Regions from separate parts of the Homo sapiens genome. Here region 2 is linked to region 1. Evidence: fine-mapped expression QTL. A gene starts in region 1. The other region holds a variant in brackets. All regions are shown on one strand. Distances are from middle to middle.

Region 1 (8,346 bases):
GAGTAAAAGGAAATTAAACATTTTAAAGCATACTTACAAAAATATAGGAGGTTGAGTGTCAAGGAAAGCAAGAAGAGAGATTACAACCAATAAAACACCAGTGTTCTGACTTATGCATCTTGTTCAACACAACTAGAGTATGGGGTACTGGAAAGAATACAGAGCAGGGAGTCAGGACACTTGGGTTTGGGTTTTTGCTCTGACAGTCACTAACTTGTGGGACTTTGGGCAAACCCTTAATTCTCCCTGGCACTCAGTGTCTCCATCTGTCAATTGAGGGGGCTGGATTAACAGGATGATCCTCCCTCTGGCACTAACATTCTGAAATCCACTCCCGTGCTTTCTCCTAGTTAACCTCCCTAACTTTTCCTGCAGTCCATGGTGTCATGGCTTATACTCCAGCTTTCTCCTCCATTTCCTTTCCCCCAAATTCCTTCTGCTTTTCTCCAAAAACTCTAGGGTTGGGGAATAGGGTATGGGTGGTGGTTAGTGTGAAGTTTTTTTTTTTTTTTTAAACACTTTTGAGTTAATTTTTAAGTGTCCCTAACTTATACTTTTGTTTTTAACAGAAATACTTTGCTCATCTGTTTTTATTGTTTAGTCCCTCATTGAAGTTTAGTTTTGTAATTTCCTTTGTTGTCATTCTCATTGTTCTTAAGCCAGAATGAAGGCAAGAACTATAATTAATTAGAATGCTCATTTTCTTTAACCTCTGTTATCCAAATTATTTCTGATATAATGCCATACATAAGGGTGCTAATGGTGTTTCTTGACATTGGTTATAGTTTGTTTTAAATTGGGACTGTATATTTCTGACTTGTTAAATAATGGAAGATTTGGGGCATTACTGAATGCACATAATCAATCCCTTAAAACATGCTGAAAATGGAAAATAGTAAAATTTAAAGCTTTTTATACTACATGATAATAGCATTTTTTTGTACCAAAAATGTAGAGCCAAATTTTCCACTCTGAGATTTATTTTTTCTGTCATGAACCTTTCAAAGTAAGATCTCTGAAAATGACTAATAGCCCAGTGTTGATTAAATTGTATAATTACCAGAAGAGAAAAGGGTGGCAGTGCTCAGAGAATCAAAGGAAATTAATATCTGCTGTGTGACTTTGGGTAAGTCACTTAACATTCCCGAGCTTAATTTTTCTGTAAAATGAGGACCATACTACTACCTGCATTAGCTACCTCACAGCTCTTTTGTGAGGAGTACACAAAAATGCCTACCTTCGCATAATAATGACATGAGGCCTTACAAAGTATAACTGAAACATAATAAAATTGAATGATGCATATGAAAGCACATTTACACATTATTCTTTCAAAATTACCAAGTTATACCATAGAACTGTAAGGAATTACTTTATTAGACAAAGCATTAGTGTTACTCACTTCTCCCAAGAGATTGTGCCTATTGCTCCACCTGCTTGACCAAGCTATGTTGCCTGTGCCATCTTTCCTATCATCTTATACTGTTATTCATACATCCTTGGATTGGCTTCTTTCTTAACTTTTTATGGTACATGCCTTATCTCAACCAGAACATATATTGCTTCTTTACATTCCTCTTGGAGCATAGTCAGTGTGAATGTAAAAAGGAAGCGGGATTGTTAGAGTGTATGACTAGAAAGAACGTGGAGAAAGTTTGAAGAGAGTGTTCTAAACACTGGGAAGTTATTGGATGTTTTTGAGCAGGTGACTAACCTAAGCTCACCTGTGCTTTGGGAAAACACATCCGGTGTTCATGAGAATAGACTGGAGGAAGGAATAACTGGAGGCTAGGAAGTGAATTTCAAGGAGATGGATGGCATGGTCCAGAAGAAAAACATGGAGAATTTAGGAAAGATGGCAAAAGCAAAATAGACAGGTTAGGCTGTTATTTGGTTGTGGATGGTGAAGAAATCCAAAGTACTTACTAGTATTTTGTCTTTGTGACCAGCTAGGAAAAACAGACGGTTAAGGATTTATCTTCTTAAAGAGGAATGGAGTGTGCAAAAGTGGGAGAGGAATGTGATCTTGATAGTACTAGTTAGTACTGACTGGGTCTTTCTTTGTACTTTTAATTTTATTTAATACACAACACCAATTGTAGCCATTTTGATTTTCTTTCTTCTCCAGCGGACTTTGAATTTAAGATTTTTCTTTGTGATCCTGTGCAAGCCTAGGTTGTTTAAGAAAAATACACGAATAGTTTCTCAGACACTTCCTCGTAGCAAAGCACTTATTAATGCTTGTGACTACAAATAATCAGCATTTCTTAGGTTTCTTCCTGTGTACTGTATCTCAACAACTTTTTGAAATATATTTTAGGAAAAAATTTCTAGTTCTCTAAAGAGGTGAATCTCAATGGGTGGTTAAATTTCACAAGGGTTGAAAGATCTTGTGGTATAAAAGCTCTGCTTTTAAGGTCGTGCTACATCAAAGACAGTTCAACGATAGCATGGAAGAAAGTGATATATAAATAACAAGTAACTCATACTTAAAAAGGCACTACTACGTTTTGTTTTTTATATCTGTAATGAGATAGGTAACTGGTTAGTGGCTAGTGAATTAAAAGCGAATCTTAGAGAAAGGGGAAAAGAACGCGTTTCCCACAAAACGCGTATATTCAGTTCTCATTCTATGATATCTGCCATTTGATGTGGTTCTGTTCCCCTCCTCCCACTTTCAAATTATTTGTCGCGCGCCAGTGGTCCCAGCTACTCGGGAGGCTGACACAGGAGGATCTCTTGAGTCCAGGATGTCAAGTCTGTAGTGAGCTATGATCCCGACACTGCATTCTACCCTTGGCAACAGAGCGAGACCCTGTCTCAAAACAAAACAAAACAGAAACAAAATAAAAAAACAATGTTTTCAAGAAGCAGAGACCAAGCCCCAGGCGGAGTCGAACTCTAGCAGGACAAGAACGCGGTCGGTCCCTTTCCCCCACCTGATCCACAGGTGCAGGGGTGGTTGCCTAGGTGACGCTCAGCGCATACTCCAGGCCAGGCGGCTCCGGACACCGCGATGCGGCCGGAGTTCAACAGCAGGTGACGGCGGGAAAGCAGAGCGGCCACATAGATGTCCCTGTACTCGGTAACTCTTGCCCTCCCTTGTTCTTCTCGAAGGTCCTTTTTTTTCTCGTGCACGGCTGACGAGACAGGCGCAAGCTAACTTCCCCCGCACTCCTCCGTCGGCCTCTAGAGGGCCAGGGCTGCGGCGCCTACAAAGCCTCGGGATCACAGCTGGGCCTCCTTAGCTACCGGCCGGGCGACAGCGCGCCTGCGCACCGGCGGGGTCACGCGCGCGGCGCGGGGGTGGGCCTGCGCCGGAGGGGCTGTCATTTGCAGCGCTGGTCGCAGCCCTCAGCTGCGCCGGGCGGTTCCGGCTCCTCCCTCTCCTTGTGCCTCAGCGCCACCATGGTGCTGGAGTCGGTGGTCGCGGACTTGCTGAACCGCTTCCTGGGGGACTATGTGGAGAACCTGAACAAGTCCCAGCTGAAGCTGGGCATCTGGGGCGGTAAGCGAGAGGGCGCGGCCAGTGGGCTGCGGGCGCTGAGGGCCCAGCCGAGGGCTGCTCCGTCCGGGATTCTGCCCGGGCCCTGCTCCCTGCGCCGCCTGAGACTCCCCATCCCGGTGCGGCAGGTGCTAGATGCGGGAGCCTCTGCCGCCCGCGGATTCTCGGGGTCCCAGTCCCGACTCCGGCTGGGGAGATGCGGCGGGATCCCGCCCGCGCTGCCAAAGTTCCCACCTTTCTCGTCCCCCGAGGCCAAGCCCTGGCCCTGCTGTCCCCGCCCTGCCCGTTTCTGTGGTCCTCTCGCTGCACTCAGGGTGGCCCCTTTGGCCCTACAGCATAAAAACAGAGCCCTTTCTGTTTCGGTATCGCGTGGAGTGAGCATGGTTGTCTGGTCATATACGCTCGAAGTGGCACTAAGAAAAAAGGAGGAAGTTGCATCTCGCAGTTATCTTCACTATCATTTTACAGGGAGCAAGAACTGGGTTCCTTCTCTTTAGGATTACCGGGTTTGGAGAGGAACGGGCAGGAGATCTTTAAGATAGGCGTGTGCTTAGGGATTCTTACTCTTAATGCTTTCAGCTCCTGTGAAAATGATTTCTTCCTTTAATATTTACTTTTCCGTCAATACGAAGAGGATTTTGAATTTTGTTTTGGAGCAATAGAGAGAAATTCAAGCCTCGACCAGCATCGTCATTAATTAGGTGTCTGCTTGGTTGCATGCTCAGGAATTTATGCCAACGTTTTTATCCTGGAGATTAAGTGTATAAAAGTATTCAGGAAATAGTGTACTTAAACATACACTCTTCAACGAGCTTAATCGTTTGCATGAATTACGTGTTAAGCTTTGAGGACTTTGGGACTTTCTCACTCCACAAAAGGTTTGGGAACTTTGTCAGCTTTGGAGGAAAATTCAAAAAACGACTCAAATGTATGGATCTGCTTTTAATTCAAGCAACAACAAATAGCTATAGACTTCCCCTGTCCACTAGGGTAACCACTAGCCACTGTAGCTGTGGAGCACTTGATATGAGGTTAGTGCTAATTGAGACTTGCTGTATGAATTAAAACATCGTTTTGAATAAGCATTACTCCTAATGAAGTAGGAGAAAAAAATAATACCTCAATAATTTTTATGTTGCTTATGTGTTGAAATAATATTTGAATATATTGGGTTAAATTAAATATAATATTAAAGTGTATTTCCCGTGTTTTTTAGTTTTACTTTTTTTCTTTTTAAACTTGGCTTCTAAAATTTATAATTACGTATATGGAACATATATTGGGCAATGCTGTTTATACCCTGAATTACGGAAGAGCCTGGTTGTTGTTGTTGTTGTTTTTTTTTTTTGGCTTGTCTTTTTGAGACAAGGACTTGCTCTGTTGCCAAGGCTGGAGTGCAGTGGCAAGATCGTAGCTCATTGCAGCCTCCAACTCCTGGGCTGAAGTGATCCTCCTGCCTCAGCCTCCCAAAGTGCTAGGATTACAGGTGTGAGCTATAGTGCCTGGCAAGAGCCTGTTTTTAATAGGTGGCTGATCATTTGATTGGTTCACTGTGGTTTGCCCAACAATACAATAGTCCCTTGGTATCTATGGGGGATTGGCTTCAGTACCCCTGACCATACCAAAATTGGAGGTTGCTCAAGTCCCTTAAATAAAATGGCCTAGTATTTGTATGTACCCTATGCATATCCTTCTGTATACTTTTGGTCATCTCTGGATTGCTTATAATACCCAATAAGTAAGTGCTATGTAAATAGTTGTTCTGTTGTTTTTTAATTTGCATTTTTTTATTGCTGAATTGATACTTTTTATTTTTTCCCCCCGAAATATTTTTGGTCTGCAGTTAGTTCAGTCCGTGAATATGGAGGGCCTACTGTACATTCTTTGTTTACATCCCCCCACCACACTCAATACAATGTAAAGGAAAGGTAAGTAAAGAAAGACACATTTAAGGAATTAAATGACCAGCATCTTCTGCAGAAATCAAGTATTTCTTCAGAATACTGGCAATATTCTTTCCAGTGATTCCTTATAGTTTGTAAACATTTGAAACTTGAAAACGCACCGGAGTAGCAAATCTGAAATCTGAATAGGCCTAGTGAATGGTGTGCTGTGTTGGACAAGCCACTTACCTTATTGGGCCTTAGTTTCTTCATCTTAATTTAAACTTTATAGAAAAAATATTTTTAAATTCTGAAAAGTTTAAATCATACTGGATGATATAATACTTTCATGTAATTACTCATATTTCAATGTTATAATATTATGCCATATTTACTTTAGACATTTTCTTTTTAAAAAGATAAAACGTATGGATATAGTCAGAGGTTCCATTGCCATCAAATGTTACTCTCTTTTATCTTTAAAATTGGAGGTTGGACTAGGTAACATCGAAGGTGATGCCAATATTCTGTTCTTCTGATAATGGTTTTACCATGACATTGAGGAGTATACTGCTTGAAGATTTTGAAGTTTTTCACAACTGAAATTAAAAATGTCGTAATTTTATGTTATTTCCCCTTTTGTCTTTTTTTGGTGAAATCTAGAAAAGGAGACTTTCTTTCATCTCATTTTTAAATTTTTAGAATAAGGTATTCTGCCAGTGGCCAACATTAACTTTATAATAGGCCTGAGCAAATAAACCCATTTCTTTCACATATTGTGTCTAGTGAACATCCAATCAGGGATTCTCCTAGCTTTATCAGCTCACAACTCTGCCTCTGTAAAGCTTTGCTGCCTTTTATTTTTGTGGTTGCTATAAAGCTAGAAGTCACGAGCTTTTATCATTATTGCACAGTCTGTTGTTGATAACCCTAATTTCTCAATAAAATTGGAAGGCAAGATATCTGAGTTGATTTTTCCTGTTCTTTCAAAATATTGCTAAAGAAATTTGTCTTAAACTTTTTTGGGTAAACAAATGGGAATATTAATTTAATAAAATAGGTGACATTTTATGATAACCATGATGTTGACAAGTTTTACAAAAAATTGAAAATTCTATATAATCTTCTTTGACAACTATTTGCTTTAGCAGATAAGGTTTACAGTTCACAGAGTTTTTTTTTTGTTGTTGTTGTTGAATTTTCAAGTCTTGAGAAAGGGAAGAATTCATCTTGTAAATATTTCACTGTAGGGACCAGCCCCACAGGGTCGGTGGGTCTCTCCCTGTGTGCGGCGACGAGAGAGTGTAGAAATAAAGACACAAGACAAAGAGATAAAAGAAAAGACAGCTGGGCCCGGGGGACCGCTACCACCAATGCGCGGAGACCGGTAGTGGCCCCGAATGTCTGGCTGCGCTGTTATTTATTGGATACAAAGCAAAAGGGGCAGGGTAAAGAGTGTGGGTCATCTCCAATGATAGGTAAGGTCACGTGGGTCACGTGTCCACAGGACAGGGGGCCCTTCCCTGCCTGGCAGCCGAGGCAGAGAGAGAGAGGAGACAGAGAGAAAGATAGCTTATGCCGTTATTTCTGCATATCAGAGACTTTTACTACTTTCACTAATTGACTACTGCTATCTAGAAGGCAGAGCCAGGTGTACAGGATGGAACATGAAGGCGGACTAGGAGCGTGACCACTGAAGCACAGCATCACAGGGAGACGGTTAGGCCTCCGGATAACTGCGGGCAAGCCTGACTGATGTCAGGCCCTCCACAAGAGGTGGAGGAGCAGAGTCTTATCTAAACTCCCCCGGGGAAAGGGAGCCTCCCTTCCCTGGTCTGCTAAGTCGCGGGTGTTTTTCCTTGACACTTTTCGCTACCGCTAGACCACCTTCCGCTCGGCAACGGGCGTCTTCCTAGATGCTGGCGTTACCGCTAGACCAAGGAGCCCTTCTGCTGGCCCTGTCCGGGCATAACAGAAGGCTCGCACTCTTGTCTTCTGGTCACACCTCACTATGTCCCCTCAGCTCCTATCTCTGTATGGCCTGGTTTTTCCTAGGTTATGATTGTACAGCGAGGATTATTATAATATTGGGATAAAGAGTAATTACTGCAAACTAATGATTAATGATATTCATATATCTCTAAGATCTATATGGTATAACTATTCTTGTTTTATATTTTATTATACTGGAACAGCTCGTGTCCTTGGTCTCTTGCCTTGGCGCCTGGGTGGCTTGCCGCCCACCTCACATACCTGATCTTACTATTCTTTGGAATCAATTGATAAACTACTTTGATACATCTTAACTGGAATGTCTAACTAGCCTAAAGCAGTGATTTTCAGTGGGAGGTGACTTTGTACCCAGGGTATATTTGACAGTGTCTGAGACTTTTTGGTTGCCACACTGAGGGAAGAGGTGTGCTATTGGCATGTAGCAGATAGACCCTGGAGTACTGCTAAACATTCTACAATGCAGAGGACAACTTCCTGCAGCGAATTGTCCAGCTCAAAATGTTAGTTGAGAAACCCTAGTCTAAGAAGAAGACTGAGATTGTCTTCTGCATTTGTAAGGGACCTACTGGGTGCTGAAAAAATTGTAAGGTTTTAAAAAGGACACGGAAGAAGTAGATTACTCTTAACGAAATCTGTAATTCGAGAGAGAAATTGATATCTTAAGTGACTGAAAGGTATCATGTCAATAAAAATGCGTAATCTTTGCTTGGATGATCTTTGGAAGTAGTTTTAAGATCGAAATATTGTGTTAACATGATTTGGAAAACATCATAGTGTGCATATATTCATATATGTATATATAGGCGTTCATAATGAAATTTACAATTAAAAAAGGTTGAGAGGCCAGGCACCGTGGCTCACACCTGTAATCCCAGCACTTTGGGAGGCCGAGGCAGGCAGATCACGAGGTCAGGAGATCGAGACCATCCTGGCTAACACAGTGAA
Region 2 (8,346 bases), 42 kb after region 1:
AAATGGTGATACTGTGCACACTGTGGTATAGTTTAAGCACTGTGGATTGCAACTTAGATATTGAAGATCAGAAATACAACAAAAACTTAATGTTGACAGATTTTGGATATAGAGACTAAAGAAATTAAATATTAAGGATCTAGAGATTTTCCTAGAAGCATTTTGAAGTGTTAAGAACATTAAAGGCTTAAAGAGATAGTTCATATTTCCAAGTATGAAAGCCTTTTTTTTAAAATGTGTAAATTTAAGGAGTACAAGTGCAGTGTTGTTACATGATATACTGCATAGTGGTGAAGTCTGAACTTTTAGTGTCTCCATCACCCATAATATACATTGTACCCATTAATAAATTTCCTATCATTTACACCTACTTCTCACCCACCCTACCCTTTCAAGTCTCCAATGTGTATTATTCCACACACTGACCACGTGTATTCATTATTTAGCTGCCACTTATAAGTGAGAACGTGCAGTTTGTTTTTCTGCTTCTGGGTTGTTTCACTTAAGATAATGGCCTCCAGTTCCATCCATGTTGCTGCAAAAAAACCCAAACAAACATGTTTTCCTTTTTTATGGCTGAATAGTATTCCACTATGTACCCTAAGTGTTATTAAAATGATTTAGTGGCAGTGTTATCTGTAACACCTTTTAAAATTTATCTGTGAAAAAATCTTTGATTATACACATAAAAAGATTATTCCTTTTTAACTGTCTAGAGAGAAGTCTTGTTAGTCATAGTTAGTGAGTCATCTTCTAGTATGAAAAGAGTTCCACTGGGAAAGGATCTTATTGGTAGCATAGAAATGTTATGTCTACAAAATATGGATAATCCCAGCCATGTTATTACCTCCTTCCCCTGTGTTTTCCACAAATCCATTTGGGTTGTATGGCTTAACCTGTAAACACATTTCCCTCTGCTGCCTATTGTAAAGGACATGGATTCGCCTTCACCATCAGCATATTTTACTGTTATCTTTTCTTCTTTGGTAGGTCACTGATCCAAAGCGGCCTCTTTCATTTGGTGTCACACTGGGAGAGCTTAGTCTACTGGTAATGTTTGCTTTATTTTAAACTTCTATGGAACCTGTAAAGTATTATTCTGAAGTCACAGGGTAAATTGTCTAGAATCAACTATGCGACAAAGAACTATGATTTTTTAAATATATTATCATGCTAAACAACTTTTCTAGAAGTTTAACATTTTTAGTGATGCTATTATTACATTTTAAAATTATTTTTGTCTTTCTGTGTAACAGGTATCAAAATATCATTATCAAATGATTTGAAAGAAATAAAAGCTGTATCTTAAACATGTGGGGGAAGTAGGGGAAGATGAATTTCTGTAGAGTCATGTACTCATCTTCGGTATAGGTAGATGGAATTTCTAAATAGCTTATAGATATGCATATGTTTATGTATGTGTGTGTGTGTGCGCACACTCATCTCATTGGGCAATATGTAAATTAATTTATTTTGATTATTTTATAATGAGTTTTTCTTTTAATGGTCTTTAACAGTAGACAGTGTGTGTCTGTATATATATACACACATACATATATATATATGTATATATATATATAGGCTGGACATTTTTATTTCTATTACAGGCAACTAAGTGGTAGGAAACATGTTTTGGGGCATGTATGGAGAGGAAGATGTGGTTCACTTAGATACTTTTAAAGTTAAGGACAGTACAGGAATTGAATTCAGCTCTGCACCAAGCAGACCCAATAGACATCTACAGAACTGTCCACCCCAAATCAACAGAATATACATTCTTCTCAGCACCACACCTCACCTATTCCAAAATTGACCACATAGTTGGAAGTAAAGCACTCCTCAGCAAATGTAAAGAACAGAAATTATAACAAACAGTCTCTCAGACCACAGTGCAATCAAACTAGAACTCAGGATTAAGAAACTCACTCAAAACCACTCAACTACATGGAAACTGAACAACCTTCTCCTGAATGACTACTGGGTGCATAACGAAATGAAGGCAGAAATAAAGATGTTCTTTGAAACCAACGAGAACAAAGACACAACATACCAGAATCTCTGGGACACATTAAAAGCAGTGTGTAGAGGGAAATTTGCAGCACTAAATGCCCACAAGAGAAAGCAGGAAGGATCTAAAATTGACACCCTAACATCACAATTAAAAGAACTAGAGCAGCAAGAGCAAACACATTCAAAAGCTAGCAGAAGGCAAGAAATAACTAAGATCAGAGCAGAACTGAAGGAAATAGAGACACAAAAAACCCTTCAAAAAATCAATGAATCCAGGAGCTGGTTTTTTGAAAAGATCAACAAAATCGATAGACTGCTAGTAAGACTAGTAAAGGAGAAAAGAGAGAAGAATCAGATAGACGCAATAAAAAATAGTAAAGGGGATATCACCACCGATCCCACAGAAATACAAAACTACCATCAGAGAATACTATAAACACCTCTACGCAAATAAACTAGAAAATCTAGAAGAAATGGACAAATTCCTCGACACATACACCCTCCCAAGACTAAACCAGGAAGAAGTTGAATCTCTGAATAGATCAATAACAGGCTCTGAAATTGAGGCAATAATTAATAGCTTACCAACCAAAAAAAGTCCAGGACCAGACGGATTCACAGCCGAATTCTACCAGAGGTACAAGGAGGAGCTGGTACCATTCCTTCTGAAACTATTCCAATCAATAGAAAAAGAGGGAATCCTCCCTAACTCATTTTATGAGTCCAGCAGCATCCTGATACCAAAGCCTGGCAGAGACACAACCAAAAAAGAGAATTTTAGACCAATATCCTTGATGAACATCGATGCAAAAATCCTCAATAAAATACTGGCAAACCGAATCCAGCAGCACATCAAAAAGCTTATCCACCATGGACAAGAAGGCTTCATCCCTGGGATGCAAGGCTGGTTCAACATACGCAAATCAATAAATGTAATCCAGCATATAAACAGAACCAAAGACAAAAACCACATGATTATCTCAATAGATGCAGAAAAGGCCTTTGACAAAATTCAACAGCCCTTCATGCTAAAAACTCTCAATAGATTAGGTATTGATGGGATGTATCTCAAAATAATAAGAGCTATTTATGAAAAACCCACAGCCAATATCATAGTGAATGGGCAAAAACTGGAAGCATTCCCTTTGAAAACTGGCACAAGACAGGGATGCCCTCTCTCACCACTCCTATTCCACATAGTGTTGGAAGTTCTGGCCAGGGCAGTCAAGCAGGAGAAAGAAATAAAGGGTATTCAATTAGGAAAAGAGGAAGTCAAATTGTCCGTGTTTGCAGATGACATGATTGTATATCTAGAAAACCCCATCGTCTCAGCCCCAAATCTCCTTAAGCTGATAAGCAACTTCAGCAAAGTCTCAGGATACAAAATCAATGTGCAAAAATCACAAGCATTCTTATACACCAATAACAGACAAACGGAGAGCCAAATCATGAGTGAACTCCCATTCACAATTGATTCAAAGAGAATAAAATACCTAGGAATCCAACTTACAAGGGACGTGAAGGACCTCTTCAAGGAGAACTACAAACCACTGCTCAATGAAATAAAAGAGGACACAAACAAATGGAAGAACATTCCATGCTCATGGATAGGAAGAATCAATATCGTGAAAATGGCCATACTGCCCAAGATAATTTATAGATTCAGTGCCATCCCCATCAAGCTACCAATGACTTTCTTCACAGAATTGGAAAAAACTACTTTAAAGTTCGTATGGAACCAAAAAAGAGCCCACATTGCCAAGTCAATCCTAAGCCAAAAGAACAAAGCTGGAGGCATCACGCTACCTGACTTCAAACTATACTCCAAGGCTACAGTAACCAAAACAGCATGGTACTGGTACCAAAACAGAGATACAGACCAATGAAACAGAACAGAGCCCTCAGAAATAATACCACACATCTACAACTATCTGATCTTTGACAAACCTGACGAAAACAAGCAATGGGGAAAGGATTCCCTATTTAACAAATGGTGCTGGGAAAACTG[G/T]CTAGCCATATGTAGAAAGCTGAAACTGGATCCCTTCCTTACACCTTATACAAAAATCAATTCAAGATGGACTAAAGACTTACATGTTAGACCTAAAACCATAAAAACCCTAGAAGAAAACCTAGGCAATACCATTCAGGACATAGGCATGGGCAAGGACTTCATGTCTAAAACACCAAAAGCAATGGCAACAAAAGCCAAAATTGACAAATGGGATCTAATTTAACTAAAGAGCTTCTGCACAGCAAAAGAAACTATCATCAGAGTGAATAGGCAACCTACAGAATGGGAGAAAATTTTTGCAACCTACTCATCTGACAAAGGGCTAATATCCAGAATCTACAAAGAACTCAAACAAATTTAGAAGAAAAAAACAACCCCATCAACAAGTGTGCGAAGGATATGAACAGACACTTCTCAAAAGAAGACGCTTCTCAAAAGAAGACATTTATGCAGCCAACAGACACATGAAAAAATGCTCATCATCACTGGCCATCAGAGAAATGCAAATCAAAACCGCAATGAGATATCATCTCACACCAGTTAGAATGGCGATCATTGAAAAGTCAGGAAACAACAGGTGCTGGAGAGGATGTGGAGAAATAGAAACACTTTTACACTGTTGGTGGGACTGTAAACTAGTTCAACCATTGTGGAAGACAGTGTGGCGATTCCTCAGGGATCTAGAACTAGAAATACCATTTGACCTAGCCATCCTATTACTGGGTATATACCCAAAGGAATATAAATCATGCTGCTCTAAAGACACATGTACACATGTGTTTACTGCAGCACTACTCACAATAGCAAAGACTTGGAACCAACCCAAGTGTCCAACAGTGATAGACTGGATTAAGAAAATGTGGCACATATACACCATGGAATACTATGCAGCCATAAAAAATGATGAGTTCATGTCCTTTGTAGGGACATGGATGAAGCTGGAAACCATCATTCTCAGCAAACTATTGCAAGGACAAAAAACCAAACACTGCATGTTCTCACTCATAGGTGGGAATTGAACAATGAGAACACTTGGACACAGGAAGGGGAATATCACACACTGGGGCCTGTTGTGGGGTCGGGGGAGGGGGGAGGGATAGCATTAAGAGATATACCTAATGTAAATGACGAGTTAATGGGTGCAGCACACCAGCATGGCACATGTATACATACGTAACTAATCTGCACGTTGTGCACATGTACCCTAGAACTTAAAGTATAATAAAAATATATATATATATAAAATAAAGTTAAGGACAGTGAACCATATATCATACCAGACAAGTTTGCCTTATGACTACTTATATGGAGAGGGCCTCAATAAGGAAAGAAGAGGAAGAAGAATGGTAGGGTGGTAGACTGGCAGAGAAACAGAAAAAGAAGGACATGGTTATGTGGAAGGCTTCACAATGTTGTGGGCATATAGAGAAGTAGAGATACACATCGCATTGAAGAACAGAGCAGAAACAATAAAGAAAAAGAGAGAGCTGAAGAAACAAAGGAAAGGCAGTGAAGGAAACTAGTTTTTTTTTTTTTTTTTTTTTTTTGGACTTCTTTTTTTATTTTTTATTTTTATTATACTCTAAGTTTTAGGGTACATGTGCACATTGTGCAGGTTAGTTACATATGTATACATGTGCCATGCTGGTGCGCTGCACCCACTAACGTGTCATCTAGCATTAGGTATATCTCCCAATGCTATCCCTCCCCCCTCCCCCCTCCCCCGACCCCACCACAGTCCCCAGAGTGTGATATTCCCCTTCCTGTGTCCATGTGATCTCATTGTTCAATTCCCACCTATGAGTGAGAATATGCGGTGTTTGGTTTTTTGTTCTTGCGATAGTTTACTGAGAATGATGGTTTCCAATTTCATCCATGTCCCTACAAAGGACATGAACTCATCATTTTTTATGGCTGCATAGTATTCCATGGTGTATATGTGCCACATTTTCTTAATCCAGTCTATCATTGTTGGACATTTGGGTTGGTTCCAAGTCTTTGCTATTGTGAATAGTGCCGCAATAAACCATAAAAACCCTAGAAGAAAACCTAGGCATTACCATTCAGGACATAGGCGTGGGCAAGGACTTCATGTCCAAAACACCAAAAGCAATGGCAACAAAAGCCAAAATTGACAAATGGGATCTAATTAAACTCAAGAGCTTCTGCACAGCAAAAGAAACTACCATCAGAGTGAACAGGCAACCTACAACATGGGAGGAAACTAGTTTATCCTTTGCCTGTTTCCAAAATGAATTTGAGGTAGCTTTCGACAAAAACAAGTATACAGTAACACCTTTAAAGAGGATAGAATCTGTGTTCTAAAGGATAGAGAGAGAATTGTTCCAGAAAACTGTGACTAATGATAGTGGTCATAAGGGAGCAGAGTAACTTTGAGCTTCTAGCAGACAATGCAAAAAATACAAAATAGTCATATACCTCCTATTGTCTGATAACAGGTATACTATTGCATAAGAATGGGTAGTTTCCTTAGTGTTTGCTGCTGTTTGTCCCTTTGTATCTTTGCTCAGACTCTTCATTCTGCTTTAGTTGTCTGTATTACTTTCTGCCTGGTGATTCTACTCAAGTTTTAATACTTAAGTAATATATGACCTTTCTTTCTCATTCTTTTTCACTTCCTTCTTAGAATTTACCATTCCCTCTTTTATGCTTCCTATTGTATTTTGTCAAAGACCTGTAAAATATTATTGTACTGGTTATCATGTTAATCTCCTTCTGTCAAAACCACATTCATTCACTGAAGTAGTACCTACCTTTTAGTGTTTTTGTGATGATTAAATGAGATAGTTTATGTAAAGCTTTTGGCACATTGTCTGGCTCAATTATTTCCTGCTATTATAGTGGCTATTATAACAACTACAGCAATAGTAAACCTACCTCTTTTGTATCCATACCATTTATTTTTCTTTGCAATTACAATCTAACTTATAAATCTAAAGTTATCCTCCCACCTCTGATCTGGATCTCATTTTACCTATGTGCTCACTGTACTCTCACTCTACTACTCCACTGAAACAGTTCTTAACAAGTTTCTCAATAACGCCCTTGCTGCTAAATAAGTTTAGTGTTTGGTGTTGCTGAACATGCTGTCCTTGTAGAAACTTGGTCATGCTGTAATTTCCATACTCTCCTGGTTTTCTTCCTATTACAAAACAATTACTTGTTTTTTTAAAAAGAATGTATACCATATTCAATAGTGTATAGGCTGGCTCTCTGTTTTCATTCATACCTGATTCTTTCCACAGTTCAAATACATATTAACCCAGTAATTATTTTCTGAATGAATGAACTCAAATTAGAATCATGTCAATTCTCTTTTCATTGTTTCTTTGATTTTGTCTTATAAATATATGTAAAGAAATAGATAGCTAATACTAGTTAACATTAAGTAGATGTCATTTCTTCCTAAATTATTTTGTTACATTATGTAAGTATTAGAGCGCTATTAATGACATCCATACCACGTTTCACAGGTATTCCCTTTTTTCTTTTAGACTGCAAATGAACACTGGACTCCATGCATATTAAATGAAGCAGACAAAATTATATACAAGGTATTATGTTGGAATAAAAATTTTTGTTAGTTTCCTAGGTGCACTTAATTTATTTTCTTGAAGAAACATTGATGGAGCAGAATATGCCATTGGAGTGTGAGTTAAAAGTCTAGGGTCTAGTTTTGGCCCTGCTACTTACTATGTGACCCTCTGTAATCACTTACCAGTTCTGAGATATAGGTTCTTTACCTATCAAGTGAAGATACAGGATACAGTTAATACTTCCCAAATGGTACTTTATTAGATATTGAGATATTTTGAGATGTTGTAGAGAAAATATTCTCTGATCAAGTAAGATTATTGATTAAAGTACTAAGCTATACATAATTAAACAGATACGTTTCATTTTATTTTAAACTATAGAGCTTTAGATATGTTAACAAACACTGTGAATCTCCAAGAGGGCTATTTAGTATGTAGCTTTCCCACCTTGTTGACCATAGACTCCTCTGCTACCACCTGTTTTCAGGAAACAGCTATTCATATCTGCTGGAGGGATCATGTCTTTTTTTTTTCAGCAAAATATTTACAGGGTCTGTTAAATACTAATTTCTGAATAAATATTTGATAATTGAATGAATGAGTTCCTTGGAAATAGTGTTCTTGAAAGTGCAATTTAGCAAATGCTAGACTTAATAAAGTCTGAATAACATGAATATATTTTCCCCTCATTTTTATGTTATTTTCTTTCCTTTAAAAATTCAAAATGGCATTTGGGTAATTTTGGAGTGGTGAACATGAGAATAATCT

Alleles and levels. Positions count from the first base shown, and alleles are read on the strand shown. Sizes are in standard deviations (SD) of each study's normalised expression.
With allele T in place of G in region 2, the expression in prefrontal cortex of the gene that starts at base 3,336 in region 1 is lower (small effect, 0.37 SD a copy in BrainSeq).

What was found.
Region 2: its variant is fine-mapped to the expression of VPS13C in prefrontal cortex (BrainSeq, PIP 0.95).

What each region holds. Positions count from the first base shown.
Region 1 is chr15:62,055,437-62,063,782 of GRCh38, reverse strand. It overlaps VPS13C (vacuolar protein sorting 13 homolog C), which reads left to right and starts at 3,336. Exons shown (of 85, transcript NM_020821.3): 1 at 3,336-3,508. The coding sequence starts at 3,409. VPS13C-DT (VPS13C divergent transcript) reads right to left here and starts at 3,280. Exons shown (of 2, transcript NR_135690.1): 1 at 2,940-3,280; 2 at 1,349-2,815. RefSeq lists an enhancer at 3,025-3,074 and a silencer at 3,125-3,474.
Region 2 is chr15:62,013,183-62,021,528 of GRCh38, reverse strand. VPS13C (vacuolar protein sorting 13 homolog C) reads left to right here. Exons shown (of 85, transcript NM_020821.3): 9 at 991-1,050; 10 at 7,537-7,596. Among named protein-coding and RNA genes, the nearest start is that of VPS13C, 43 kb to the left of the region's middle. The variant G/T (reference allele first, on the strand shown) is at 4,019.